Linked DNA regions of Homo sapiens. The protein of the gene in region 3 purifies or fractionates together with the protein of the main gene of each other region. This does not show direct contact. Each region holds a gene or a part of one and is shown on either strand. Other genes may lie near its edges. The genes, in order: ZNF318, ZNF507, NMNAT2, PWWP3A, SPRYD3 and YEATS2.

The links.
Region 1: the proteins of NMNAT2 (region 3) and ZNF318 purify together in Homo sapiens (affinity purification with mass spectrometry; one large-scale study listed by BioGRID and IntAct). This does not show direct contact.
Region 2: the proteins of NMNAT2 (region 3) and ZNF507 purify together in Homo sapiens (affinity purification with mass spectrometry; one large-scale study listed by BioGRID and IntAct). This does not show direct contact.
Region 4: the proteins of NMNAT2 (region 3) and PWWP3A purify together in Homo sapiens (affinity purification with mass spectrometry; one large-scale study listed by BioGRID and IntAct). This does not show direct contact.
Region 5: the proteins of NMNAT2 (region 3) and SPRYD3 purify together in Homo sapiens (affinity purification with mass spectrometry; one large-scale study listed by BioGRID and IntAct). This does not show direct contact.
Region 6: the proteins of NMNAT2 (region 3) and YEATS2 purify together in Homo sapiens (affinity purification with mass spectrometry; one large-scale study listed by BioGRID and IntAct). This does not show direct contact.

The regions. Positions count from the first base shown.
Region 1 is NC_000006.12:43,341,442-43,346,508, forward strand, and holds part of ZNF318 (zinc finger protein 318), read right to left. Parts: intron 1,439-5,067; coding exon 1,235-1,438; intron 771-1,234; coding exon 671-770; intron 1-670.
Region 2 is NC_000019.10:32,354,637-32,359,703, reverse strand, and holds part of ZNF507 (zinc finger protein 507), read right to left. Parts: coding exon 4,747-5,067; intron 3,089-4,746; coding exon 2,971-3,088; intron 1-2,970. UniProt on the Homo sapiens protein: May be involved in transcriptional regulation.
Region 3 is NC_000001.11:183,247,737-183,251,058, forward strand, and holds the end of NMNAT2 (nicotinamide/nicotinic acid mononucleotide adenylyltransferase 2), read right to left. Parts: 3' UTR 501-3,322; downstream 1-500.
Region 4 is NC_000019.10:1,374,852-1,379,904, reverse strand, and holds the end of PWWP3A (PWWP domain-containing DNA repair factor 3A), read right to left. Parts: intron 3,761-5,053; coding exon of another isoform or gene 3,748-3,760; exon of another isoform or gene 3,387-3,747; coding exon 3,329-3,386; 3' UTR 1,476-3,328; downstream 1-1,475. UniProt on the Homo sapiens protein: Involved in the DNA damage response pathway by contributing to the maintenance of chromatin architecture.
Region 5 is NC_000012.12:53,072,292-53,077,358, forward strand, and holds part of SPRYD3 (SPRY domain-containing protein 3), read right to left. Parts: intron 4,971-5,067; coding exon 4,824-4,970; intron 3,521-4,823; coding exon 3,445-3,520; intron 2,929-3,444; coding exon 2,804-2,928; intron 2,494-2,803; coding exon 2,358-2,493; intron 1,181-2,357; coding exon 995-1,180; intron 1-994.
Region 6 is NC_000003.12:183,805,019-183,810,085, forward strand, and holds part of YEATS2 (YEATS domain-containing protein 2), read left to right. Parts: intron 1-1,847; coding exon 1,848-2,074; exon of another isoform or gene 2,075-3,011; coding exon 3,012-3,086; exon of another isoform or gene 3,087-3,094; intron 3,095-3,711; exon of another isoform or gene 3,712-3,834; intron 3,835-4,078; coding exon 4,079-4,152; intron 4,153-5,000; exon of another isoform or gene 5,001-5,067. UniProt on the Homo sapiens protein: Chromatin reader component of the ATAC complex, a complex with histone acetyltransferase activity on histones H3 and H4. YEATS2 specifically recognizes and binds histone H3 crotonylated at 'Lys-27' (H3K27cr).

The DNA.
Region 1 (5,067 bases), on a different chromosome or scaffold from region 3:
GGAGATCGAGACCATCCTGGCTAACACAGTGAAACCCCGTCTCTACTAAAAATACAAAAAATACAAGGCATGGTGGCAGGCGCCTGTAGTCCCAGCTACTTGGGAGGCTGAGGCAGGAGAATGGGGTGAACCCGGGAGGCGGGGCTTGCAGTGAGCAGAGATAGCACCACTGCACTCCAGCCTGGGCAACAGAGAGAGACCCCATCTCAGAGGAAAAAAAAAAAAAAAAAAGAAATTGAGAAGTTTAAAGACAAAGGAAGTTTCTGCTTCTCCACTTACCCCTTAATAACAATGACTCAAAATATTGTATAGTTCTTAGTTGAAAAGGCAGTTAAATTACTGCATCTCCTGTCCTTTTTAACCTGGATTCCAAACAAGTAAGATTTTGGGCCCATAAGCCAATGACAAAGACAATTCTGTTTTAAGTGACATGTCTATGTTTAACATCTGTGAATAGATTTTTGGCCATATGGGTAGAGATCATGGTCTTATAGATCTCTTTATAGCTTCAGGACCTAGTACACTGTTTTGTACACAGAAGGCATTCCTACGGCTTTGTTAAAAGGAATGGCTGTCTCATGCTATGCTGCTTCCTACAATGTTAGTTCAGGGACACCTCTTCCTCAACTGAATGTAAGGAAACCACAAAGGTGGCAAAAAGGAAACATACCTTTTGCAGGAACAGTTATCTTGTCAGTGCGCTTTATGGCATCTTGCTTGGCCTCACTCTGGGTCTTTGAAGCCCAAGGTCTGTTGTAGGGATCCAGTGTCTATTTGTAAGAGGCAGAGGTGCTCACACAACAGCACTAAAAGCTCAATGACCCACTTTTCTCTTTTTTTTCCCCCATAATAAGACCAGGGGACCAGAAGCCCCCAGCTACCCACCCCCACCCCCTCTGCCAACTGTTTTAATGGAAATCACCTGTGGAAAAGGTAAACACATGTTAGAGCAAGTACCAGAAAAAGGTAAAATGAAACAAAAAAATCAGGTACTCAAGGAATCAAAAGAGGCAGAAACCTCACTTACACTTGTCATGGTGTTTAGTTACAGCCAAGTCCCCTGGACTGAGCCCTGGGGATGGTGTCTCCTTTGTTGGTGTCTCTTGGCTCTTCAGACTGGGGCTCCTGCCCATATGAGAATGTTTCCTTTTCCAGCTTTGCAATGCAGATAGGGGTATAGAAGTTTGAAGAGAGTGAGGGTGGGAGTGAAAATAACAGAGAGTAGGATACCAACCTGTGTGTGCTTCTTATTGTGCATATGAGTGAAGAAATCAAACATGGTCCCACAGATGGTGTTGCAGTCTTTGCACCAGTGATTGCCAGCATCATAATACTCATAAGCAGCAGTGGGCTGATCCAACTGCTTAGTGGCTGACTGGGGGCTTTCGGCAGGCTTGGGGCTCTTAGTACGAAACTTCTCATTGTTTACTTTTGATTCCTAGAGGGGAAAAATCTGTACTTACAAGGAATTCAAGGCAATCTAGACTTGTCTTCTGTTAGAAATAGTAAGTGGCCATAATAATAGAAATAGGGCCATATGACCATATTTCCAATGTTTAAAGCTGCACAAGTTGGGGGGAACCCTAACAGAAACATGTCTCTAAGACATAGAACTATTTGACTTCATAGTGCTATCACAGCATAAAAAGTAAATCATAATGGCAATATATTTACTTACATATCCTAAAATATCTCTAGAAGAACAGCCAAGGTTGTGGAAACATTGGCTGCCTCTGGGGAAGGGAAGTGGAGAACAAGGATGGGTAGGAGTCTCTTCACTGTATACCCTTTAGTAAATGTTGAATATGTTACCTATGCAACTAAACAGTTAAATTTGAAAATCATGACAGCTAGGGAGGGAAGAAAAACCAATATGGAAAAGGTAATTGACAGGCTAAGCAAAGCAAATGCAGAAAATAGGTGATAGTGAACTCATCACATGCATCCTGGTATGAAAAACTGGAGAGAAGGGTTGGTGTACATAGATAAAGTAGACTATACAACTACACATAGATAAAGTCATCTATGTAGAATGATTTAAAGGAATCTAGGAAAAACATTCCTAACTGCCTAAAATATCACTTTTAGAATTTAACAACTTTAGAGGCCAGGTGCAGTGGCTCACACCTGTAATCCCATCACTTTGGGAGGTCGAGGTGGGCAGATCACTTGAGGCCAGGAGTTCGAGACAGGCCTGGCCAACATGGTGAAACCCCATCTCTACTAAAAATACAAAAATTACCCGGGCATGGTGGTGTGCACCTGTATTCCCAGCTACTCGGGAGGTTGAGGCACGAGAATCACTTGAACCCAGGAGGCGGAGGTTGCAGTAAGATAAGATTGTGCCACTGCACTCCAGCCTCAGCAACAAGTGAGACCCTGTCTCAAAAAAAAAAAAAAAAAAAAAAAAATTTTAACACCGTTAACATGTATCCTTTTTAAAAATATATCAACTTCTTAATATTAAAGTTATCAACAGCAAATACTTTAATATGAATTAATTTATTACCAAGCTGGAACAAGGCACTCAGGAAATGAGAATTTTGGTTAATGTTCAGGAGTAAGGCACAGGAAAAAAAGATAATTTTTGCAACTCAGAGGCTCACTATGAATGGGGTTCTATAGTACACAAGATGAAGAGCTGGGTACCTGGAATATTGGCTCACGCAGGGAAAAAGGTAGGATACAGAAAGGGAAACAATTGGGGCTTCAAAGATACTCTTTCCCTACCTGAGTCCTATTCAAGAATCACTAAAGAAATCACACCAGACAGGCAGGGGATGGGAGAGTTCATACACTCCTGGTGGGAGTATTAACTGGCACCATCTTCTAGAAGATAATCTAGGAATACATTACATACCTCAAAATACTGTATACCCTTTAACCCAGCAATTCACTCCTTGACATTTATCCTATGGAAATTATCATGTCAAACAACAGGTGATTTGATTGGTTAAATAAATTTTGCTTAACCATGCAACCAAAACAACAAAAAATAAGGTTGTTAAAAATGGTATTATAGAAGTGTATTTACTGACATGGAAAGATGTTCATGATATACTGAGAAAACTAATAAAATACACTTGAATAATCAACAAAGATATGTAAATCGGCATACAGCGTTGAATATCACTTTATCCAAAATACTTTCTCTAACCACTCTATACTCCTTATCCTGTTTTCTTTTTTTAGGCACTTCTCATTACCTAACATGGACTTATTTATTTATCATCTTCTGCTATTTAATGAGAATATGAACCTTGTCTATACTGTTCAGTGTGATACTTCCCATATCTAGACCAGTTCCTGACACTTTATTGGTGACCAATACATATTTGTTAAGTGAATTGATGGACAGAATTAATACTTTGGTGTATGTATTTGGAATAACATACACCAAGGTATTAATAATAAATTAATGTATTTGGAATATATAATAATACCTTGGTGTATGTATTTGGAATAACATACACCAAGGTATTAATAATATTATACACCAAGGTATTAATAACAGTGGTCTCGGCTGGGCCCAGTGGCTCATGCCTGTAATGCCAGCACTTTGGGAGGCTGAGGTGGGCAGATTACTTGAGCTTAGGAGTTCGGGACCAGCCTTGGAAACATGGCGAAACCTCAACTCTACAAAAATACAAAAATTAGCCAAGTGTGGTGGTGGTGAGCACCTGTAGTCCCAGCTACTGGGGAGCCTGAAGTGGGAGGAATGCTTGGACCTGAGAGTTGGAGGCTGCAGTGAGCCATGACTGTGTCACTGCACTCAACTTAGGTGACAGAGTGAGACCCTGTCTCAAAAAAAAAAAAAAAAAGTAATAATAACAGTTGTCTCTAGGTAGATGAAATTACAAGTTTGTATGTGCTTTTCTGAAATGAACAGAAAGGGAAAGAAAATCTCAAACCAACTATACATTTTAAAGAGAGGTAAAGAAAGAAGAAATACCAAGGACAGGTAGGAAAGAAAGGCTGTGGACATAATATTCCTTACTGCTGAGATGAAAACTGAATTGTAACATATCCGTTAGTTTCAGAGACCATGAAGACGCACCCAAATCAAGATGACAGATTATCATTGGGTTCGTACATGAATAGAAATCCAATGTATAAGTCAATTACAAAGGACCAGAGCTTTTAAATTCTTCTCCCATCAAAGGCCCTACCTAGACTGAAGACCCAGGTATAAAAGACTAGGCCTACCTGGTTGAGAAAGAAAACTCTCCTAGGAAGACATGGAAAAAAATAGAGCTTGGGTGATAACACAGAATATATTCTCTTTCCTACCTCTCAATATTAACTGAGGATGTACTATGTGCTAGACATATTGTATGCAATGGGAAACACAAAGATAAAAAAGATTCCTCTTTTATCCTCTCGGGCCAGGTGGGGTGGCTCACATCTGTAATACTAGCACTTTGGGAGGCTGAGGCGGGAGGATCATCACTTGAGCCTAGGAGTTCAACACCAGCCTGGGGACGGGCGCAGTGGCTCATGCCTGTAATCCCAGCACTTTGGGAGGCGGGGGCAGGTGGATTACCTGAGGTCAGGAGTTCGAGACCAGCCTGGCCAACATGGTGAAACCGTCTCTACTAAAAATACAAAAATTAGCTGGGTGTGGTGGCACACGCCTGTAACTCCAGCTACTCAGGAGGCTGAGGTAGGAGAATTGCCCAGAAGACAGAGGTTGCAGTGAGCGAAGATCACGCCACACGCCACAGAATAAGACTCTGTTTCAAAAAAAAAAAAAAAAAAAAAAAAAAAATGCTGGGCAGGGTGGTTCACGCCTGTAATCCTAGCCCTTTGGGAGGCCGGATCACGAGGTCAGGAGTTTGAGACCAGCCTGGCCAATATGGTGAAACCATGTCTCTACTAAAAATATAAAAATTAGCCGGGCGTGGTGGCACGTGCCTGTAATCTCAGCTACTCGGCAGGCTGAGGCAGAAGAATTGCTTGAACCTGGGAGGCGGAGGTTGCAATGAGCCGAGATTGCGCCACTGCACTCCAGTCTGGGTGACAGAGCAAGAACTCTGTCTCAAAAGACCAGCCTGGGCAATATAGCAA
Region 2 (5,067 bases), on a different chromosome or scaffold from region 3:
CGCAGGAGACATGGATCCAACGAAAAGTAGCCATGTTACTAAACTCACTCTGCAACAACAGGGCTGAGTAATTCAAGTTGGGGTAAGCTTATGTCAACACGAGTTGAGTGACTTGATCATATAAAACGATTTCTTGAAGATATTCAACGCTTCATGTACTTGTCTGTCAGCATACAGTCCACAGGCTATTCACACTCTGCTTTATATTCAGAAACAAAGCAAGCATGGAAGCTCATGAAAAAGGCAGAGCAGGAAGAACTGTGTGTCTCTTGGCAGGAAGAAAGCTTAGGTAGAACACCTGTATACACCGCATAAAAGTAAAATCCGTGGTATTATACAAAGGAAAACCCACACTGAAATTTCAACAAAGAAAATCCTTAAGTTAAATTTACGGTTTCTAAAATTGAAATTTTCTTTTGCTAATAACTACTGCCAAGCAGAACAAAATGTCCTAATTTCCTGGTATAAATCTATAACGTTAATATACACACTAATCATAATTATAATCTAAGTATTGCTCTTAATTGGTAGGTTAAAAACTTGGACTTGATTATAAATGGCACTGTTCCAAATACAGTTTTAAAAAAACCCTAAAAAATGAAGTGTGAAATATTGGATAATGGTTTTGTGTGAGAAATATTACAGATCAATGACAACTAATAAAACTGACAGATGGAAAAACTTAATATAGCACAGAATGAGAGCCTGTGCTACTTCAAGCAACTGTTTCCAATGGAAAGAATATTGGATTTAAAGTTCAAAAACTTGGGCTTAGTCCTCGCTCTGCCACTTTCTACCAGTATGATCATGGGTAAATTATTTTGCCTCTTGAAGTCTCAGTTTTCTCATCTACAAATTGGAAATGCTAGAACCTCACAGCATAGTTTAGTAAGTCCTATATTTTTCCTTTAGCAAAGTCTGTACTTTACCTGCATGTCTGGGTAAAATCTCTGCCCTGCCACTAAGCTGTCTATTCCCTGAGGATAAGGATCTGCTTGTTTTGTTTAGACTGAATCCCCAGCGCTTGGCAAATTATAGGTTTCCAATAAAAAACAATTTAATTAGGTTTCATGGAGTAACACCATACGAAAGGGCTTTGCTTGCGGCTCTATTTGAGCTCCTGCGGTATCTGCTGACATACCCATCAGCCTCGTTCTGTCTTCTTCACTGAGTTGGATTCCTGAAGGGCAGTGATGCCTTTCACTGTACTCCCAGCACCTAACACAGTATCTAGCTCAAGACAGGCAGGCCATGCCTTTTGGCCAAGCAAATGTTAAGCTGAAACATGCCCTAAGGTATCTGTGCTATCTGAATGGCAGAGACTGAGGATCACAGAGGCACAAATCTCTCTTCTTGTTTAACAAGTTTACTAAATAGGTAAAGAAGTTTTAACAAAGCATGAATTATTATTACCTTATTTGTGAGCTAAAAATTTTTTCTTTGGCCTGACAACCAGATTTCAAAATATCTAATATTGAGTTAATAAAGTACCCATCCAGGTATAAGTATGCAGCCATTTGAACTGCTACAGTACTGAGAGAAAAAAGCAAATGGAGCCAGGTGGAGGAAAAGAGGCATGGCAGGCAATTTAAAAATCCATGCATGTAACCCTAAAAAAAAAGCATGAGCCACAAAGAAAAGATGCTGCAACATAAAATCTAGTAAACATTCATTAATACTGTAAAGTCTGAAGTGGTTATTTTAATTTTGAGCTGACACTTTAATCTTTTTATTAAAATTGTGAATTTTAATGTTAACTCATTTGGACAGTTTGAAATGTTTGCTTTTTAGGACGGTGCTAAAAAAGACATCTTCCAACACTGATATTAACTGCAGGTGGTGCTACTGAGTAGTATTTACTTCATCCTTTCATTAGGGATTTATGGTCCAATCATATCAGACGTTTTAATGTCTCCTTTAAAGGGGATATGGAAACATAATGAATTAAAATAAAAGGAGGCATTTAGGGCTATTTTGTAAAAAGGAAACAAAACTGTTTTAGCTCAGCCATCTACTGCAAAAACAGATGCTATATCATAAACTCCTTTTGTTTCAGAGAGTTTTACAGGGATGACATCTGTTTGACATGAGAATTTTGGTGCTACAGTGGTGTCAAAATCAGTTCTTTCAGAAGCATTCTAGAATCAGTTATGCTTTCTGGGGTATAATTTAATGAAACATTATGGTAAAACATTTCACTCTGTAGTCGTTTCTAACTTTAATTCTTAGCAAATCTAAAAGGGAAAGTCACCCCAATATGTCTTATCTCCCATAAACATTATGTGCCACACTGGAGACATTTAAAGTATATCAATTTAAGTGAGCTGAACCAAAGCGGCACAGCTTAGTACACTTTATCCTTAATTCTCCGGATGTGGCATCCGCCTTTTCATGGAGCTCTAATTAAATCTTTTGATTCTAATATTCTTATTACCAGAAACTCGGTTGACTGCTACTTAACTAGTACATAAAAAGATCTTGTGTGTCTGTGTGTGTGCTTTTTTTTTTTTAATAATGCAGATGAAATCTGGCAGTCATACTTGGGTAAGAATAAGATCACAGCGGGGAGCCCCAGTTAAAGTTTGGGGTGGGGGCCTACCATCTGCAAAAGCTCTGTTCTCAGTAGGTCAACTGGTGCCGAGAGAGGGAGGGGAGGCCTGTTTTCCATGTTGTAGCTTTTCTGGCTTGCTTTTCTGGCTTGCTGGTACATCACCTTCTAAGGGGCTCTTAAGTTTCAACTGAAGATGAATCCTTACTATCTAGGGCTTCTCACCTAGGACCTAGTAATCATCTGCTTCATTCAGTACTTGGCATTTCCTCAGAAACAGAGATCAGATTCACTCACATCCATGGTACAAAAATGGAGGAGAATATAGGCTTTTGCCCTGAAAATAACCAACCATGACAACTAAGGGCACTTTTATGTCATGTGCAAGTCACTGCAGCCTGCATAACAAAATACATAGATACCTTCCTGGACACATTTTCCATCAGCTGTATCACTGGAAATTCTTGGCTCATTAGAAGTTGCTATTGACAAGGTATCTGGAAGACTGTGCTGTTCTCTCTCATGGTTCCTCAATTGACTCTAAAAAGTGGAAAGAAATATGTAATTTTCAATAAATATACATGTCCAACTCTTAGGAGGCTGTAGAAGAACAGGTTCATTGCTTTCATGGCCTAGTACAACGAATTACCATATTTTAAAATCAAGTCTGCTAAAGGATCATTTGACACATTTGACAATTTATAGAAAGAAGTACATTAGCAAATCATAATCACATTCAACGGACAGTTCCTCTTCATATTCTCTGAAAGGAAGTCACCATTTTCTTAGGTGATTACACAGGGCGTGTCCGTATTTACTGAAACACTGGTAGGCCCAGAGGAGGAACGAGCAGAGTGTTCAGAATAATGCAACTTCACAAAAAAAAATCCAATCAGTAATCACCAGACTCCTAATTTTTCATTGAAATATCTAAATGTGTAAGAGATCTAACTGGAAGTGCTCCTCCAAGGACATCCTGTCTCCTCTACTTCCATTCCCATGAATCAAGAGCTCAGTAGCAAAAGAAACTCCTGGAGACTTCAGGAACTTGTCTTTGCAGCCTATGTGGACATCCTACTTGGAATTTCATGAGTGTAATCTGAGAAGCAGTGAACCTCAGACTCAAGGGCTTTCTTATTCCTGTTACCTTTTTTTTTGAGATGGAGTCTCGCTCTGTTGCCCAGGCTGGAGTGCAGCGGCATGATCTTGGCTCACTGCAAGCTCCGCCTCCCAGGTTCAGGCCATTCTCCTTCCTTAGCCTCCCGAGTAGCTGGGACTACAGGTGCCCACCACCATACCCAGCTAAGTTTTTGTATTTTTAGCAGACAGGGTTTCACAGTGTTAGCCAGGATGGTCTCAATCTCCTGACCTCATGATCTGCCCGCCTCGGCCTCCCTCCTGTGACCTTTTTACCACAGCTAGACCCCAGCTCTCGGTAATCTGAGGGAAAAAGTCTACCTCCTAGTTAGCCCTTAGGATAACATTTGTAATACATTTTCAAGGAGTCACCTGGCCCACTGAAGAAAAGTTCTAAACCAATGATTCAACGTTTCCTTTATAAAAGAATAGCACTTCATACAGGATATTGGTTTTGATAAGGTCAGCACTTAAGATAAAAATCAGACAGTCAAAATAACTCTTGAAAGTTCTTTACCCTGCCCATAAAACATGACACACATGGCTCTATTTCCATGACAGTACCTTTTAATAGGTCCGCCATAGCCCATTTTTCCTTCTGCAATGATACACATCACTGTTGGTTATGTAGAAGCTGAACTGAATGCCTGGCATTCTGGGGCCATATAAGATGAAAAATATGTATTTTTTTGTTGTGATGATGTACGGTTAAATTTGTTTAAGTCAAACGTATGTCAATACGTTAAGTCAAACGTATGTCAATCCACTATACACTCCCTACAATTCTCTTGCAACAGAAAATCAACACTTTAAACTATACACACTAAAACACAGAGGCTGTCAAGGAGGCAGCAGGCAGGGAAAAGGATTCTACAGCAGAAATTCTGAACAGTCCCAACTTTAATACTGGTAAGTTGGGATCCCCTTGGGCAACTTATCAAACTTTTCTGGGACCCAGTTTCCTTATCTATAAAATGAGGTGATTGGATTAGATCTACAAAGTTCCCTTCTCACTCTAAGATGCGAAGGTCCTCTGAAAGACTTCCTGAACCAATGCTTACCTTATAATGGAAGGATTCTTCACACTGCTTGCACTGGTATATTCTTGTCTTACAGTGGTGGATCATGTGACTCTCCAAATCTTTGCTGTTGTCCGCTATGTGCTCGCAGATAGGACACTGATAAGGCTGTCTCTGTCGATGGACTCGTAAGTGCTGCTTGATGTAGCCCTTGTTGCCACTTGTGTAGTGACACAGGCGGCAACGGTAGGGTCGTTCAGCATTCGGGATGTATTCCACCACATTGTTTCCGGACAAACTTGTATCGCTGTTGGGTTGGCACTGGGCGTTGTCCTGCAACTCTTTCAAAATGTCATCGTCTGA
Region 3 (3,322 bases):
TGACTGAAGGTGAAATAAGAACTGATAATCACAGCAGGATTGAACAGTTAACAAATTGTTCACTTTTGCTTGTTTACATTGCCAAAGCAAATTGCGAGTTTAACAAGTTCTGTTTTAGTTAAGATCTTTCAAGCTAAAAAGTTGTTCAAGTTTTTCATTTTCACAAATATAATTTTATTTCATAAAATACTAATTTCATTGAGGAGCCAAAGTTAACCAACACTGGACTATGCAAATTAGTCAAGATGTAAGATTTAATGTTTCAAAACTAAGAAAACGGAGGCACAATTTACAAATTTGCTAATTATTCTTCCCTTTATCATCCTTGGATGTGGCTGTACATACTTTTATATAACACATGTGGCATCAGCTGAACCAGGCAGGAAACTGCTTGTTCTAAGTACATTTTTACAACTGTTGTCTCCTGTCAAGTAAAATTATGAAGAAAAAGTGATTAATGCTGCAATTCACAGAGAAAGTTCTTGACCAAGACACAAGACTCTTGTAGCATTGTCTTATTTATTAACATAATTGAAACATTTTGCATAAAACTCTTGCCCATGACTATTCTAGCAACAAAATTGTACTCAAAATATTTCACTGTGAAATGGTATTGCAACTTGAATATCATTTTTTATTAATGAATTGATTTCCATAAAGCAAATCTTACTCTTAAAATGGCAGATTATGTGATCAAAAAGCGATTCAAAAAAGCTTCCCCCTCCTCATGCCAACCCTCAAGACCATGTGGATCCAGCTGAATCCTCAGCCCTGGGACTAGACTAAGGTTGAGGGAAAGAGCCGTTAACTCATTCCTAACCAGAACAGGCTAATAGGACACTCCAAACTCACACTACAAAGAGACCACATGAACAGTCGAGTGTGCTGGGCAGCTATAAGATGGTGCAGACTGGATGAATTTGGCAGAGCATATTCATCACCATTACTACAATGCTATTCCTAAGGTGTCCTAATTGTATGAGCTACAAAATCGGTCCCTGTTTCCATTCTTCCCATCTCACCTGTTGGCCCTCCTGCAGTAGGTAGCCTTGGGAGAGATCCTGAGCTTTTCATATTCTACCGTTTTATTTTTGCATTACTGTTTGGATGAGTAAAATGTAATAACATGCTTCTCTCTCTTAGTCCCCTAAAAGAGTGTGTGTGTGTGTGTGTGTGTGTGTGTGTGTGTGTGTGTGTCAGTTTGAGGAGAGTAGAATTGGGCTGGTAAGTACAAGTTTTTTCTCCCTGTAATTCTCTGCCTTTTGCTGTAGTTCAGTTATTATTGAGTCTCACTTTCTACTTAATTTGAACAGCAAGTTCTTTAATTCTTTCTGAGAAGCTGGAGCTTGAAACTAGAGAACATTGTTGAAAGGCTGGCCAAGCTGAGACAGGAAGAACGGCGTCTCTAGAAGCTCTAGCTTTGGGTTTCAGGCACTTCAGTAAGAGACTTTCCCCCTTGTTCCTATGTACATTCAAGGAAAATGAAAGCAAGAAGGCTCTAGAGGCTGCCTGGGGTTGGGGGTGTGTGACTGAGGTACCCACTAGCAGCACAGCCCTCCCAGAGGACCATTCCTTAAGGACAGAGTTATTGACAAAAAGGGTTTTCCTTCTGCCTGTTCTTACATCAGCCACTTTCAGAAAAATGGGAGAGACATTTTTTGCTGGTGAACAGGAAACAAAGCTCCAGACCCCTCTGGACATGATTGTTCCAGTCCATGCCTTTCTCACAACCTCTGAGCCATGCCAGTCTTGGATTGGGCTTTGCAGGAAGGAACAGGACCCCAGAGACAAAGTCGGGGGGTAGAGGTTATCCTGTTGGCACCTGGGGCACCACTTCAGACTCTGAATCATCTTTCTGGTATTGACTGTGGCTGGGTCATGGTCACAATGTCCTGTCCTGGATTTAGTTGTGCTGTGACCTTCCCCTAGCAAATGAAGAGTAGGGCGTGTGTGTGTGTGTGTGTGTGTGTGTGTGTGTGTGTGTGTGTGTGTGTGTTTGGGGGGTAGGGGGTGCGGCGATGGGAATGGATGATTCTATCCAAAAGAAGATTCACTTTCTTTTTATATTAAATAGGAAACCTGTTTTTAGTACAGTGCCTGTAATCCACAAAGATAAGATCTGCCCCACTTCATTCCTAGAAATCTACTTCTATGGCACCTGTTCTTTGTCTTAATTCATCTCACTTTCCCTCCCCACTCCCACATGCTTTCGGACTGCATGCTGAGAGTGCAGAACCAGCCTCATTCCTTCTCATGGGCTGTAGACCAAATGGGGCTTGACCAGAGCAGAGTGACAGAGTGGACCAAGAAACAAAAGAAATCGAGCCTTCCTCAGGTCTGCTCACGTGGGTCCCATAAATTCCATCCATAACTCCAAGTCCTTAAACAAGCCATGTTTCCCCAGGAAATTCAGGCACCTGTTTTCCTTTGTTTCATTTCCTGGCTTATGACTGTTCTGCCTGGACAAGGCTGTTCCATCTTTCGCTCTCCAGCAATAGCATCATCCTGAGCACTCTGTGGGTCTTCCTTCACCTTCCACAAAGCAACTCTTTCTTGGATTGATGGAGTCCGCTTCTGGGATTTCTTCCAAGCTGCTGAGATCTCTTTATTTCTAAAGGAAACCTAACAGTGGCCTTCCTTACTATCACACCCTCCCCTGGGACTGGCATTACCATCCTATGTGTGGAGAGCACCTGGGACAGATATAATTTAAAAGAAAGATGCCAGGGTAAGGCTTGGGAAGTGTAGAAATCATATGGGCACCTGGTCAGCAACATGAGGAAATGGAGGGTGTGGTGTGACGGCCTAGGGGTCAGGGAAACAATATGTTCTTGTCAGGCCCTACACCTGCTGGCTGACCTGGACCAGCCATTTAATCCCATGGGCCTCTGCTCCCTCAACTTTTAAAGGAAAGTGTTGGATCAACTGAACTCTAAAGTTTTTTTCAGTTTATTATTTCATGATCCCTAGTCAAACACTGATACCCCAAAATAGGATTTTCCTTCCTTCCTCTGAAGATTATTTCAAAAAATCCAAGAGGAATAACAGACTTTCTGGATGCTGCTCTACCATGTTCTTCTGTTAAATCAAGTTCCTTTTCCCGCAATTGAAGGATGTTGCAGATGTGAAACGTGTGGTAAAGAACATTGTCTTTGCTTTCAGGTCCCACCTGGCCCTTTCTGGCCGTAGCTGGTACTAGATTTTGATAAAAGTATCCTAATACTCAGGGACTATTTCTCAAAGACCAGAATCCCAAGAGCCAGAGACTGGATGAGAGACACAAAGCACAAGACAGCAATTTCCTTATGGCTCTCCAAGCAGG
Region 4 (5,053 bases), on a different chromosome or scaffold from region 3:
CAGACAGGCACAGCTGTGCCACTGAGGGGGGACCCCAATTCCCCTCACACTGCCAGGGCGGGAACAAGTGAGACCGGCTTCGGAAAAAGCATTGGCAGGGACATGGGGGTCTCTGCGGCTCAGTGAAGGGGGTTGGGGAGTGTGGGCCAGGTGGTTGGGGGGCTGGCAGAAGCACGCACCCAGGTTCTGAGACACCCGCTGGGCCAAGCCAGAGAGGGAAGGGGCGGGGGTCAGGGGAAGGACGCCATGGTTTGTGGACAGCAGTTTTCCACGGAGCACCAGGCCACGTCTGGGGACATCTGTGGTCATCTCGATGGTAGAGGCGGGAGCTCCTGGCATGGAGACACTCAGCACCCAGCAGGACCCAGGACACCCCACCCCAGTGACACAGGTCCAGTGTCCTCAGTGCCAGGGACAGGCTCAGGTGGGGATGCAGGGTTAGCTAGCTGCCAGAAGAGAGGCAAAGCGTGCAGGCTTCTGAGGGCAGGGCTCCTGGCGTCTCCCTGCGTGTGTGCACGGGGTCAAGCCTGTCTTCCCGGGGCTCCGGCGGCAGTCGAGGAACGCCAGCCATGCTGTGGAGAGGGCGAGCCCAGGACCACCCATGCTGGCATCCTCAGGGCCCCGGAATGCTCCTCACTGGCCGTGCCTGTGAGGTCAGCACCCCTGACTCCCACTCAACTGCCCGGCTGACAACCCAGAGCACCCACGACCCCCCATTACTGAGGGAAGCACCCAGGCAGGGCCTGTCCCAGCGGCCTTGACACCCTCAGAGCCCACAGGACAGTAAGGGCAGAGGGTGCAGGCGGGGTGGGACGCACAAGGGGGCCTCTGGCACATTCTGGTTCCACCTGCTGGGCAGGGCTATGCTGCAACACAGGTGCTCATCGTCATTCCGGCTGGAGTGCAGTGGCGTGATCTCGGCTCACTGGAGCCGCAGCCTTGACCTCCAAACAAGTGTTCCTCCCATCTAAGCCTCCCCAGTAGCTGGGGCCACAGGCATGAACCCCAGTGAGGCCCCTGGCTGCTGTTTATTTTTTTGAGACGGAGTCTCACTGTGTGGCCAGGCTGGAGTGCAGTGGCGTGATCTCGGCTCACTGCAACCTCTGCCTCCCGGGTTCAAGCAATTCTCCTGCCTCAGCCTCCCCAGGTGCTAGGACTACAGGCGCCCACCACCATGCTCGCTAATTTTTTTTAGCAGAGATGAGGTTTTACCATGTTGGCCAGGCTGGTCTCGAACTTCTAACCTCAGGTTATCCACCTGCCTTGGCCTCCCAAAGTGCTGGGATTGCAGGCGTGAGCCACCGCGCCCAGCCTCTGGCTGCTGTTTAAACAGCACCCTAGGCCCGCCAGTGAGGTGGGAATCCACCCCAAGGCCAGGCCATGTCCCTGGGGATGGCAGGGTCACTCTCCCATTTCCAAGCTTGGACAACCCATGCAGTGGGATGTGTTTGGGGGTTCAGAAAAGACAAGCCAGAGGTCTGGGAGGTGTTTAATTCCACCTCGAACAACTTGGCAAGGTCAGCAGAGAAGCAAATGGATAAAAGTACTTCACAACAGCAGAAAAGTTCCATCAGGGGCGCGTGATTCCCACAAAACCATGGCAATGTGTCCTACTCTCAGGAACCCACAATGGAGGGCGGCTCCGGAGGATTTTCCATGAGGCAGTACGAGGCCCGTACATGCAACGCTGCTGAGCCCCGCCTCAGGCGGTGGTACTGGCCGCCCCGAGTCCCCGAAACAGCGACCAGCAGGGGGCCAAGGCCGACAGCCCTGACCCCCGCCTCCTCCGGGGTGTGCCCCACTGCTCCAGACAAGACAGACCCCAGCGTGCGGGCATGGGAGGCGGAGCTGCCAGGCCACGGCCGGGTTTCCTGCTCTCGGAGTCGAGCAGAGGCAAGTGAAACAAAGGTCAGTGAACACCGAGGTCCAGAGCAGCCGCCGCCTCTGGCACCTCCCGAGTCCCAAGGGCCCGATACGAGAGTCCTTGCGGCTTCGTCCCGCACAGCGCCCTGCATCTGAGACAATCGTGTTCCGATCTCCTCTCCGGTGGCTGTCGTCGGCTGGGGAGGGCCTGGGGGAAGAGGGTCACAGCCCCTCAAAGCAAGGCCTCCAGCCAGGGCCAGATGCAGCCCAGCCAGTGGGGAGAAAGCAGCTCCCAGGCCACCGGGCCCTGGAACCCTGGACATGTCACCAGCACTGCTGTGTAGGCACAGCCTGGAGCATCCACTGAGAATGGACAAGTCATCGTCTGTGGCTTTGCTCTTAACAGCACGTCTGACCCTGCTGGAGCCTGGCTGAGCCCCACGGAGTCACAGCCCTCAACAACCTGCAGCCCCGGCACCGTGCTGTGGACCAGAGCCGACCCGGCAGCCACACCCCGGAAGCCGCTTCTCCAGACGGGAGCGCGGTTGGGCCTCCATACAAAGGCTGCGCTTCTGCCATGGCGGGCACAGGACAATGCGGTTTGTCACTCCACCCCAGGGCTCCCACAGTGACCCTGACTGCTGCGGCCACCCTGGGACCCCAGCATAGCCATCCGCGCCGATGACTGAGACCGCGGTGACTGGCTGTGCAGTGACGACACAGTGCAGGGAAATGCACTCAGGACAGGCCAGGCGGGCGGGGGAGGTGGAGGCGGTCTGGCCCATGGCAGCCAGGGCATGTGGCTGCGCGCTGCGGTCCACTCACACACAGTGCGGGACACAGAGGCCCCTGGAAAGGTGCGTGTCCTGCTCCTCTCCCTGCGGCCACAGCAAACACGACACAGAGCAGCGGCTCGTCTCTGCTCCCGCCTCTAACGAAGGCTGTTTCCTCACAGCTGCAGAGCACACTGAGTGGGAGAGCAAATTCTGGAACTGTCGCAGGCGGAAACCACACAAGGGGGAAACAGACAAAACAGCAAACCCGGAAGAACCATTCCCGCTTCCGAAGCTCCATGATCACGGCAGACGCTTCTTAAAACCTCCCGTTTAATATCAGATGCCACACATACGAGATCGATGTGCACGTCGGGAGAAACCACAGCACAGCCAGGAGTACTGGCGCACAGTGAATACGCTTCCGTCCTTTCAAAAGCCTTTCCCGAACGGTATCTTGTAAAAAATGCCAAAAATAAAATGAAAAAAACTGCCAGGAAAAGAGAACTGGCTTTCAGTGTTAACGAAATGGATTCTCCAGAAGCATGGAAATCAGGACTGCCACGCAGGAGAACGCACAGACAGGTCCAAACGCAAACGTGCCCCCTGAGCCCCCCATCTTCAGACACGCTCATGCACACTGGAGGCGCTTCCACCGCCAGGCCCCGCTGACAGCACAGCCGGCTGCTCCCTCACCGACGGCGCCGGTTCCGCTCTTCAAGGAGCTGGTTGTCAAATATTTCTTTTTCCCTTCAGAAAACAAGAGTCTTCATTTTAGTAATTAATCATTGTGTGTTAAAGAATATGAGAGAGAGGACTGGGTGTGGTCGCTCACGCCTGTAATCCCAGCACTTTGGGAGGCCGAGGCAGGCGGATCACAAGGTCAGGAGATCAGGACCATCCTGGCTAACACGGTGAAACCCTGTCTCTACAAAAAATACCAAAAAAAAAAAAAAACAAACAAAAAAAAAAACAAACAGCCGGGCGTGGTGGCGCATGTCTGTAATCCCAGCTACTTAGGAGGCTGAGGTAGGAGAATCGCTTGAAACCGGGAGGTGGTGCTTGCAGTGAGCCAAGATCATGCCATTGTACTCCAGCCTGGGCGACAGAGCTAAATTCTGTCTCTAAAAAAAAAAAAAAAAAAAAGAGTATGACAGAGAGTCCAGGCACTTTGGCTCACGCCTGTAATCCCAGCACTTTGGGAGGCCGAGGTGGGTGGATCACGAGATCAGGAGTTCAAGACCAGCCTGGCCAAGATGGTGAAATGCTGTCTCTACTAAAAATAACAAAAATTAGCCAGGCGTGGTAGTGGGCACCTGCAATCCTAGCCACTCGGGAGGCTGAGTCAGAAGAATCGCTTGAACCAAGGCACGGTGGGGGGGTTGCAGTGGGCCGAGACTGTGCCACTGCACTCCAGCCTGGGTGACAGAGCAAGACTCTGTCTCAAAAAAAAAAAAATAAATAAATACATATGTGTGTGTGTGTATGTCTACATATACATATGATATATAAAATTATATATTTTATATATAATATAAAGTATACATACTTTATATATATTATATATTAAATTGTTTTATATATTATAAAATTGTACATTTTATATATAATATATACAATTATATATTATATAATATATAAAATTGTTATATAATTGTATATATTATAATATATAAAATTATACATTTTATATATAATATATTTTATATATAATATATATTTTATATATAAAATATATAAATTATATGATTTTATATATTATATATAAAATTTATATATTTTATATAATATATAAATTTTATATAATATACATTATATATAAATATATATGGCTATATATATTTTATATATATAATATATATTATATATATATGAGAGGGCAGTTGTTTGATGGGGACAGAGCTGTAGTTTGGAAAGATGAAGTTCGGAGATGAGCAGCAGTACCGGCTGCATAGCACTGTGAAAGTGCTCACCGCCATCGAACCATACACTTAAGAAGGTTAGGATGGTAACTTTTACAGGATGTGTAATATTTTTTTTTTTTTTTGAAACGGAGTCTCGCTCTGTCACCAGGCTGGAATGCAGTAGCACAATCTCAGCTCACTGCAACCTCCACCTCCCGGGTTCAAGCGATTCCCCTGCCTCAGCCTGCTGAGTAGCTGGGACTGACTATAGGCGCGTGCCACCATGCTTGGTTTTTTTTTTTTTTTAAAGTAGAGATGGGGTTTCACCATGGTGGCCAGGATGGTCTCGAACTCCTGACCTCGTGATCCACCTGCCTCGGCCTCCCAAAGTGCTGGGATTATGGGCGTGAGCAACCGCACCAGGCCTTAACAATGTTTTAAAATAATATTTATTTTTAGAGACAGGGTGTTGCTCTGTCACCCAGACTAGGGTGCAGTGGCATAATGATGGCT
Region 5 (5,067 bases), on a different chromosome or scaffold from region 3:
GCAGGAGGGCACACTTCCTGTCATTTTCCCTGAGTTCCACTCCACCAGGGGGAGGCCTGGCTCCTAATCCGCTCCCACCCCCCACTGCTTCTGTTTTGTTATCAAAGACTGAGTTGAAAACAGCCTGGGTTGGGGTGGAAAGGCCAGAGGGTGGAGAAAAAGGCCAGGCCAGGAGCAAGGGGGTAGGAGAGGGACAATTCGAAGTGGGAGGGCTGAGCAGCCCACTAGAGGTCAGGGCCAGATCCCGGACTTGGCGTCCATTCACTCCCAATGCAGCACAGTGTATTGAGGCAGACAGGAAGAATTTTCCTTTCTCAAGGTTCATGAATTTTCCAACAAAACTTAAAATCCGGGGAGGAAGAATTCCCCTTTCTCAAGCTCCACACGCTTCCCAACGAAGCTTAAAATCCATACTAAAGCAGGTATGAGGAAAAGATAAATGAAGCAAGTTTGGAGGTGTAAGGATGCTCACTGAATCTTTATCTGCCTCCATTCTAATCCTCTATCAAATGCAGGGATAAGACAATAGAAACTGACATTGACACTTCCTCAAAAAAGATGGCTAAGAACCTTCCACCACATGTGTGGACTTCTGACCACACCTGCCCCACAACACTTTGAATGAAAAGCCTGGGCCAGGCATTTTGCCTCCAGATCAACCCCCAGCCCCTCAAAGGCAGTTGTGCAGGGCTGTAGAAGACACCAGAAGCTGAAGGAACCAAAAAAGGCAAAGCAGAACTACTTGTTCCCAGGGTCAAACTGCGAACCTGAGTTCCCTGAAGAGGAGGAAGTGAAGAAAAGAGAACATGTGCTAAAGAAAACACAGATCTGGACTCAAGGACTCATGTCAAGAGCCTAGGCTATCTTGCCAAACCCCACACGGACACTGTCCCGACTCCCCATTCCCAGCAATTCAGACATGACCATGTGCCCACAGGTGTTCTGCCCAGCCTCCTCCGACCCAGCCCCTCCCACCCTCCCACCCGCTACTTACAGTCCCACAGACTCTGACATCATGTAGCCGGCCCCATTCATCCTCGTAACTGTCCACCATCATGACGCTGTCGTCCTCACGGCCCAGCTCAGCGTTGAGGTGCAGCCGCACCTCCTCACCCAGGGAGTGCATGCCCACTGCTGGGAACAGTCCATCTGGGGACATGGGCATGATGGTAGAGCCCACCTGCAGTGGGGGGAAAGACGGAGCTGCCACCCGGCCTGCTTTTCCATAGCTCACCTAATTCTCACAAGGGTACTTTTAAGATGATGCAACCAGCCGGGCGTGGTGGCTCACGCCTGTAATCCCAGCACTTTGGGAGGCCGAGGTGGGCGGATCACAAGGTCAGGAGATTGAAACCATCCTGGCTAACACGGTGAAACCCCGTCTCTACTAAAAATACAAAAAATTAGCCGGGCGTGGTGGCGGGCGCCTGTAGTCCCAGCTACTCGGGAGGCTGAGGCAGGAGAATGGCGTGAACCCGGGAGGCGGAGCTTGCAGTGAGCCGAGATGGTGCCACTGCACTCCAGCCTGGGGGACAGAGCGAGACTCCATTTCAAAAAAAAAAAAAAAAAGATGATGCAACCAATAATTATCACACACACTGACAGATTAAAAAAAAAAAAGCAACCCAGAGGTGCAGAAAAGTTTCCAAATGTGCTAAGTACTCCTGGCTAAGCAAGGTATGTACAGAGCTAGAAGACAAACACAAGTCTCCTGACTTGCTGCCAAATACTTTCAGTACGTGTGCTGGACAGGAGAGTGCCGAGGCGCAGATGCTAAGGCAGCAGGACCCCTTGGCCAAGGCCTGAGAAACCAATTTCCCAATGTGGGAGATGGAGTTGGAGAGAAGGGAGAGAGCTGTGTGTCTCTCTCTACTATTGGCTCCTGTCCCATCTCCTCACCACGCCTAGTCTCTCTACGAACAGGATAGTGAAAGAGACGTGAAACAAGGAAAACAGGACACAGAAAGGACATATCCCCAAAAGTGCTCAAGTCAAAACCCAAAGAGGACCTCCAGCTTACATGGCCAGGCCATAATCTTCCCCTCTCTTTTATCTGCTCAAAACCTTCCCCCAAATCACCCAATTCTGTTCCCCACAATTCCTGCTCATCCTCTGCTCCACTAACTTGCCTCTCTCTGCCTGTCATCTGGGCAATGTCCCAGCTTCCTCTGGCCATGGGAAGTATCTTCTCCTACACGCAAGAGACTTCAGGAGAATCTGAGGCTGGACTGGAGGAGATGGGAACTCAGTGCAAGGGTCCCTGGGCAAGCCCCAGCCAGCAGACTCTTCCTAATCACTCCCCACAAATCCTTGGGCAGATTTCAGCCACGTAAATCCCACCACTATTTCCCACTCACCCGCTTCCCATTTTTGGTGAAGAAGATCTGGGCGGTCTGCACATCAAAGGACACAGGCTCAATGCCACAGCCAATCCGGTCCCCGGAGTTGCACTTTGACCCAAACTGGCGGCCCTTGGCTCGGCCATTGTACAGCCTACAGACAGAGTAGTACAGACACAGGACCCGAGCCTGGCCTCCCAACTTCTCCCCAGCACTGACAGCAGAGGCCTCATCCTCATCTTGCTGCTCCTGGTCATTCTGTGATGGTACCCACTTACGTCCTGGCGTGAGCATCACCCTCCTCTAGTCTGTAAGCCTTCAAGGGTGCTGCCAGGCCACTTCCCTGTCCTGACCAGAAAAGTCTATGAAACACCCAATGGGAAAAGCCAGCCCAAGGTAGTTCTTCAGATCTAAGATTCCCAAATTCATAGGAAAAGGGCCGGGTTGCACAGGAGCCAACTCACTTGCCATCATCAGCATGGTAGGCTACAGAGTCAGGCAACCAGCCAGGCTGGTGATCCAAGCTGTAGTACTGAGGGACCAGCCCCACAGCAATGGTGCCCCGGACTCCACTGTCCACAATAGACACCTGGAGAGAAGAAAGCAGGGCACAGTCAGCAGGGCTGGGAAATGGGATGAATTGCTGGGGGTGGGGGAAGGGGACTTAGAGATTAAAGGGCGCTGAGGCTCAAAAAGAAAAAGGACATGGGAATCAGGAAAAAAGATAAGATACTCAGAGGGGGCAATTGGTGAGAGTGGGTGCCTATTTCACTTAGAAAATTACTCCAAAGCTTTGGAGAAAGATAGGACTCACGTCCCTATATGGTGGGTTTGGGTTAGGGGACATGAGTCAAGTCTGGGATATGGGTCAAAGTCTACCTAGCTAAGGGGTAGGAGAGCAGAAGGGACAGGGTGACAGGTTTCCAGGGCACCTATCTCTCAGATGAGGGGCCATGCTATCCTGCACCTATTTCCCAGCCAACAGGACAGCCCTGATGGAAAATTAAAAGGCCCAGGTCATACATCTAGTAAAGGAGCTTCTTGGGGCTTAATGATCTCACCCCCAAGCTCACCCCCTGCTCTGCCCACCCACTGCCTTGATCACCTCAAAATAATTGCTGTCCTTGGTCAGGGGTCGAGAAGCCACGTAGCAGCCAACTTCACCAGAGTTTCCATGATAACTGAAGGAGGAATGAGGGGGGAATTCCATTAGCAGCCTAGCCCAAGAGTAGGGGGAGGGCCTCAGCTTCTCCCACCCTTACCCTGCAAGGGCCAGCACACAGGAGAATCCATCAGGCTGCACTTCAGTACATCGGCAGACATCAGAACCAGATACTTAAGGTCACCTCACCCTACTCCTCTCGCAGCCTCCAGCTGGAATCCAACCCGTACCAGACCAGTGCAAGCCTGGTTTCTTCATTTCCAGGAGGAAAAGAATGTAGAGCCTCCCTTACTTGCCTAAGAGAGGTCTCACAACCCTGTGTAACCTCAATCTCTCATGCTGCAGCTTCAGCCCTTTTCCTCTGGCTCTGTCCTCAGTGGAGCTGGAGAATAATGGCTGGTCTCTATCCTCTTTACCAAAGCCCTTCATCGATTGGAAGACAGTGATTCAGTTCCCACTCCTCAGCTTTCTTGCCTCTAGTTAAACAGTACTACTTTCTTCCCCCTTCAGTGGAACTCTGTGAGAGCATGGGCTCAGAAGGAGTCAGGGAAGGGGTTCAAGCCAGAAAAGAGGGAGGAAACACACACAAGCTAAGGGGCTGGAAATACAGGAGTTGGTGGACAGGGTACACTATAGAATGGCCCTTCCCCAAACAGGAAATCAACTATCTCTGAAACAGCCACTCTTCACTAGATCTAATCCCTGAGACAGTGGCAGAAGACTCAGTTACCCCACTGGAGTCTTCTCAACAAAGCACCTAGGAAGCTTCTGAGACCCCAGCAGCCTCCTGTGTCTGATGTGATCCCTTCCCCTACCCAGCTGGATCCCCTCCTTGCTGGATGAGGACAGAGCCACCCAGTGACAGAGGCAGAGGTGAGTGCAGGGTGAAGCAGCACACACTGCTCCACTCAGAAAGGCCTCTGGGCGGGTGGATCACTTGAAGTCAGGAGTTCAAGACCTGCCTGGCCAACATGGTGAAACCCTGTCTCTACCAAAAATATAAAAAATCAGCCGTATGTGGTGGTGCACGCCTGTAATCCCAGCTACTTGGGAAGCTGAGGCAGGAGAATCGCTTGAACCCAGGAGGCGGAGGTTGCAGTGAGCTGAGATCACGCCACTGCACTGTAGCCTGGGTGACAGAGCGAGACTCTGTCTTAAAAAAAAAAAAGAAAAAGAAAGGCCTCTGGAGTCAAGAGCATCGCCCTTCCCTGTGCAGTGCACAGTCCCCTTCTCTGAAAAAATAAAAGTTAAAAAAAAAAAACCCTTTCCTCTCTAAGATCTGGAACAGAGAAGAAAATGTGGAAGCATTCTCCTGAACTCACCTTAAAGTATCTCCATCTACAAGGATATGTTTGAACCTCTCCTGATATCGGAAAGCTCGGACCTCTCGAATCTCCCGGATCCGCCGGCGCCAATTCAGAAACCGGTAGTGCAGGTTGAGGTCATCCATCTTGTTCATGAGAACAAACCTGCCAAGGGGAGAAGGGGATTGAGGAGAAAGCAGGGCCCTAGGTAAAGCACCTCAGCCTCTGTGACCCAGAAGGTAGAGAAGGCACTGGCCTTGAG
Region 6 (5,067 bases), on a different chromosome or scaffold from region 3:
GACCACTGCTGCAGGGCCATGGGGTGTAGGAGCAAGGGATTAAAGGTATATAGGCAGAAGAAGCATTTTGAGTTTCACCTCAAAGAATAAGAAGGGTTGGGCCGGGCGTAGTGGCTCATGCCCGTAATCCCAGCACTTTGGGAGTCAAGGCAGGAGGATCACTTGAGCCCCTAGGAGTTTGAGACCAGCCAGGGCAACATAGCAGGACCTTGTCGCTACAAAAATTACAAAAATTACCCGGGTGTGGTAGCTCGCCTGTAGTCCCAGCTACTTGGGTGACTAAGGTGAGAGGGATCACTTGAGCCCGGGAGGTTGAGGCTGCAGTAAGCCATGAGCACACCACTGCACTCCAGCCTGGGCAACAGAGCCAGGCCCTGTCTCAATAAAATAAAAAGAAAAGTTGTTCTCTGCCCCCAGCCCCATTTATATAGAAAAACAGAAGCTCCACCCCTCCTGTCCAAGGAAACCTGGAGCACAGAGGTGGGGTTACTTTAAGACTTAGGGCCGGGCTCAGTGGCCTCCCACTTTGGGAGGCTGAGGCAGGAGGATTGTTTGAGCCCAAGAGTTCAAGACCAGCCTGGACAACACGGTGAAACCTTGCCTCTACAAAAAATGCAAAAATTAGCCGGGCATGGTGGTGCATGCCTGTAGTCCCACCTATTCGGGAAGCTGAGGAGGGAGGATTGCTTGAGCCCAAGAAGTTGAGGCTGCAGCGAGCTGTAATCATGCCACTCCTCTCCAGCTTGGGTGACAGCGCAAAACCCTGTCCAAAAAAAAAAGGGGGGGCAAGTCCCAGTTTTGCCATTAAGCTTCTTGAGAGCCTAATGCAGGATGGCCTCTCCTTTCTCTCATCTCCTGCAGCGCTTAATATCAACAGCATGAGGGCTTGTCTGACTTCGCTGTGTAAGCTACTCGGAGAGCAGAGACCGTGTTAATGATCCCCGGGCTTCACTGACATTGTGTGGAAAGCACAGTACTTGCACATACTAGGCTTCCTTTTAATCTGACTGATTCCAAACGGCCCCTAACCTACAATGGTTTGACCTGTGATTTGATGTTGTGACTTTACAATGGTCTGAAAGCTGTAGGCATCAGCACATACCTTGACTTACGATGGCCTTGTCCAGATAAGGCCATCGTAAGTTGAAAATATCCTAAGTCAAAAATGATATTTTCAACTTACGATGGGTTTTTCAGGATATAGCCCCAGCCATCATAACTTGAGGAGCAGCTGGAGCTTGTTAGAGCCCAGTCAGTAAAACAAAAGGCCAGGAGCTGGGTGCCCTTAAATCTTGTACCTGGTGTGGACCTCACACACTCATCCAGAAAGTGGAAGGGCACTAGTGCCCTAGATCTGGCCTTGAGGTCCTCACACTCCTGATTAGGTTTTGTATAAATCACCTTATTAGAGACTGGACCCATAATATACATTGAAATGTTAACAGTCCTGCTCTCTGAGCAGTGAGAATAGGGGTGATTCTTTTTATTTTCTTCACTCTGCATTTCTAAATTTTCCAGATTTGAGATGAGGAAAAATCAGGTCAGTCCTTAATACTCAGAGGGAGGGGGATGACCTGGTTTTTGGTGGCAGAAGTGAGAATTCCTACTCTTTCATCTTAGATGGCAGTTACCTTACATAGATCACACACAAGATGCCTGTGTTTATGCCTTTCTCCCTCGTGAATTACTAGTTCTCATCATTATAGATCCATAGAATGTTAGAACTGGAAAGAAGGTCAGCTCCCCTGATGCTTATCCCCCTTCCTCAGACCATGGGTCTCTTGGAGACGGAAAGTCCTCTTCCGTTGGCCCCACAGCTGTTGTAACACTGCTTGCCTGTCATTTAGAGTGCCCATCATCATTCTCCTCTGCTGACAACCTCTGCCGCAAACTGGAGGACCTGCAACAGTTCCAGAAAAGGGAACCCGAGAATGAGGAGGAGGTGGACATCCTCAGCCTCTCCGAGCCAGTGAAGATAAACATCAAGAAGGAGCAGGAAGAGAAACAAGAGGAAGTCAAGTTCTACCTGCCACCAACCCCAGGGTCTGAATTTATTGGGGATGTCACACAGAAGGTAGGGGTTGTGGTGTTAATAGTTCATGCAGCAGACCAGCTCAGAGCTAGATGTTCAGACGTTCAGCTTCACAGACCCAGACCCAGGTGTTCAGCCTCACAGACACAGACTCAGACCCAGACTCTTCTGGTGCCGTAGATGCTTGACTTCCTTCTGCCTGGTTGACCCAGGTGTGCTCTCAGGGCTCCCACCGTCCCACATCAGAGCCCTTGGGCAGAAATGCTAATTACATGTGAAAACATTGCTTGTTGAACGCAGACGTGAAGCAAAGCTGGCTAGATAGAAATGGTTGATTACTCTTCATCTTGTTTTTCTCATCTGCCTCAGTAGAAGCACCTTTCCCTCATGAGGCACGTCGTACTCTTTCTGAGTTGCACGTCAGCGCGTAATCCTCCCCTGATGTGTTGATAGCTCCTGAGTGCCCCGCCTGTGGTGCAGATGGCGTGCACCTGCCTTACTATACAGGAGAGAGGTATTTATCCACCCTGCTGGAGCCTAACAGCTCTTCAGCATCTGCCAGTTGCTCAGGGCCCAAGGTGAAAGACAGTGTGCTTTCATTGGATGCCATGAAGAATGGGCAAGATGCAGTTTCCAAGTGCAAACAGGACGTTGGAGTCTGATTCCAGACCTTTCAAAGTGTTGATTGCGTATCAGAACCCAGGCAGATCCCAACCATGTTCTCCCACGAAGGAGATTTGAGAGATTTTAATAGGATTATAGTCATATTTTAAATATCAGCCAGAAATGTGGAAAAACAAGATAACATTCTTCTAGATGTTATATTCCGTGTTCCTTTCCCGTGAATTTTGCCCAATATGTTTGCAGAGTCCTCCTTCCAACCAGGCATCGCTTTGCATGTCAGGGAGGTATGCTTGTTTGGAGAGAGGCTGTTTCTAAAGCAGCGATACGAACAAACGGCTTTCTTCTGCTTTTCCAGATTGGGATCACCCTGCAGCCCGTGGCACTCCACAGGAACGTGTATGCGTCCGTGGTGGAGGACATGATCCTGAAGGTGGGTGCCTGCAGGGGCCGCCAGCCAGGAAGGATGGTTGCATCCCAGGCGGTTTGGAGTAAGGGGCAAGGACAGAAAAGGAACAAAGATAACAGGCTTTAAAATGTCTCGTCTTATTTGGGCTTAAGTTCTCTCTTTTTGTTTTTTTGTTTTTTTTCCTTCTGATTTTTAAATGGACTAAGTTATGTTTCCTCTGAGTCATGTGGTTTCAGGTGCCTCCTAAGACGTATTCTGGGGGTGGTGGTCAGTGTGCTCGTTGCTTTAGGAGGTGGCAGAGACAAAGCCTATGGTTTTCTGTACACGTCACAACAGCAAACAGCCCCAACTGTCCTGACCCTGGCAAGGGGACGAAAATGCCGCAGCCTCCTTCCCCAGCCTGATCCTAGCTCAGCAGTTCCTTTCCTCGTGGATCCTCTCCAAGAATAGGGATACCTCCGTAACAACTGCTTTCCTTAAATACAATGTCTAGGGCTGGGCGCGGTGGCTCATGCCTGTAATCTCAGCACTTTGGGAGGCCGAGGCGGGTGGATCATTTGCAATCAGGAGTTGGAGACCAGCCTGGCCAACATGGTGAAACCCCATCTCTACTAAAAATAAAAAATTAGCTGGGCTTGGTGGCGCTCACCTGGTAATCCCAGCTACTTGGGAGGCTGAGGCAGGAGAATCGCTTGAACCCGGGAGGCGGAGGTTGCACTGAGCCAAGATCGCGCCACTGCGCTCCAGCCTGGGCGCGAGAGTGAGACTCCATCTCAAAATAAATAAATAAATAGAATAATGTCTGATTAATGAAAATCACTCCAATTCATAATTTCTCAGAATCATGGCCTTTATCATTATGGTCTATTATTGAGGCCTTTAATTTTTTCTTAAGGACTTTTTAATCCCTAGTTGCAGTGGTTTCAAACATTTGGGGTAAGGGATGGGGTTAAATGTGTCCCTTCTTGCCAGCAAGCAGATGGCCATTTGAAGAATAACAGCATCTTCCATTGTAGGCTACAGAACAGCTGGTGAATGATATCCTGAGACAGGCTTTGGCAGTTGGATACCAGACAGCTTCTCACAACAGGTATTACTATCTCTGCAGTCTGTGGTGTGAGGCTTACACCTCTTTCCTAACAGTTGAATTGCCCATGAAGGTGTTTTATACTTACATCAATCCAGTAGGAGATGGAGTGAGTGCTTAGGACACTCTTAGAGCCAGATGAGCTCAAGGGTCTGCTTTGTCATTTTTAGAGAACCTCATGGTTGTGAAAGCTCACTCAGCTTTGCTCAGAGGTTTATATCCTCCTCATTACTTCACAGACACCTAGGACTCTGTTTTATTACAGGGTTGAATAAATATTAGCTTTGCAATTAAAGATAACAGTGTCCATTACATGTCAGACACGAGGGCCAAGCGTTGCATATATTACCTAATTTGTTTTTCATTGCAGAACTATTATTCTCTTTTTAAAAATCAGGAAACCGGGCTTTGAAAGGTAATTTTACCCAGCTTACCCAGCAAATACAGTGTAGACCTGGACTTCCGACTCAGGTCTCATTGGCTCTGAGGCCCCTGGGCTCGCCACTGCTCTTTGCTGACTCGTTGTCTTTGATTAAGACACTGAGTTTCAGTCTGTTCCTAGGCCCTGAAAGGATGGTAGATAGGCCACATCTGCTTTTCTTTCGGAGGAAACAAATATTATTTTATTGCATTATGCTAAAGGCTGTCACAGATTTATAAAATTGTAGCAAAGTGCCTGAGGACATGAAGGGCCTAAATCAGAGGAATAGTAGATGAAACTTCACAGGAATATATCAGACAACATAGGCGTCTTTAGAGAAAAGGAAGGGGAACCAAGAGTTCCGGTCCTGCTGCCCACTGTCCTGCTTGGACCCACAAGTGAGCCAGGGCCTCCTGTGGCCCCTGCTTACCTCTGTGCTCCCTGTCCTGGAGGGGTAGAGTGACTTAGGTGCTTTTGATGGAACGATTAACATCACG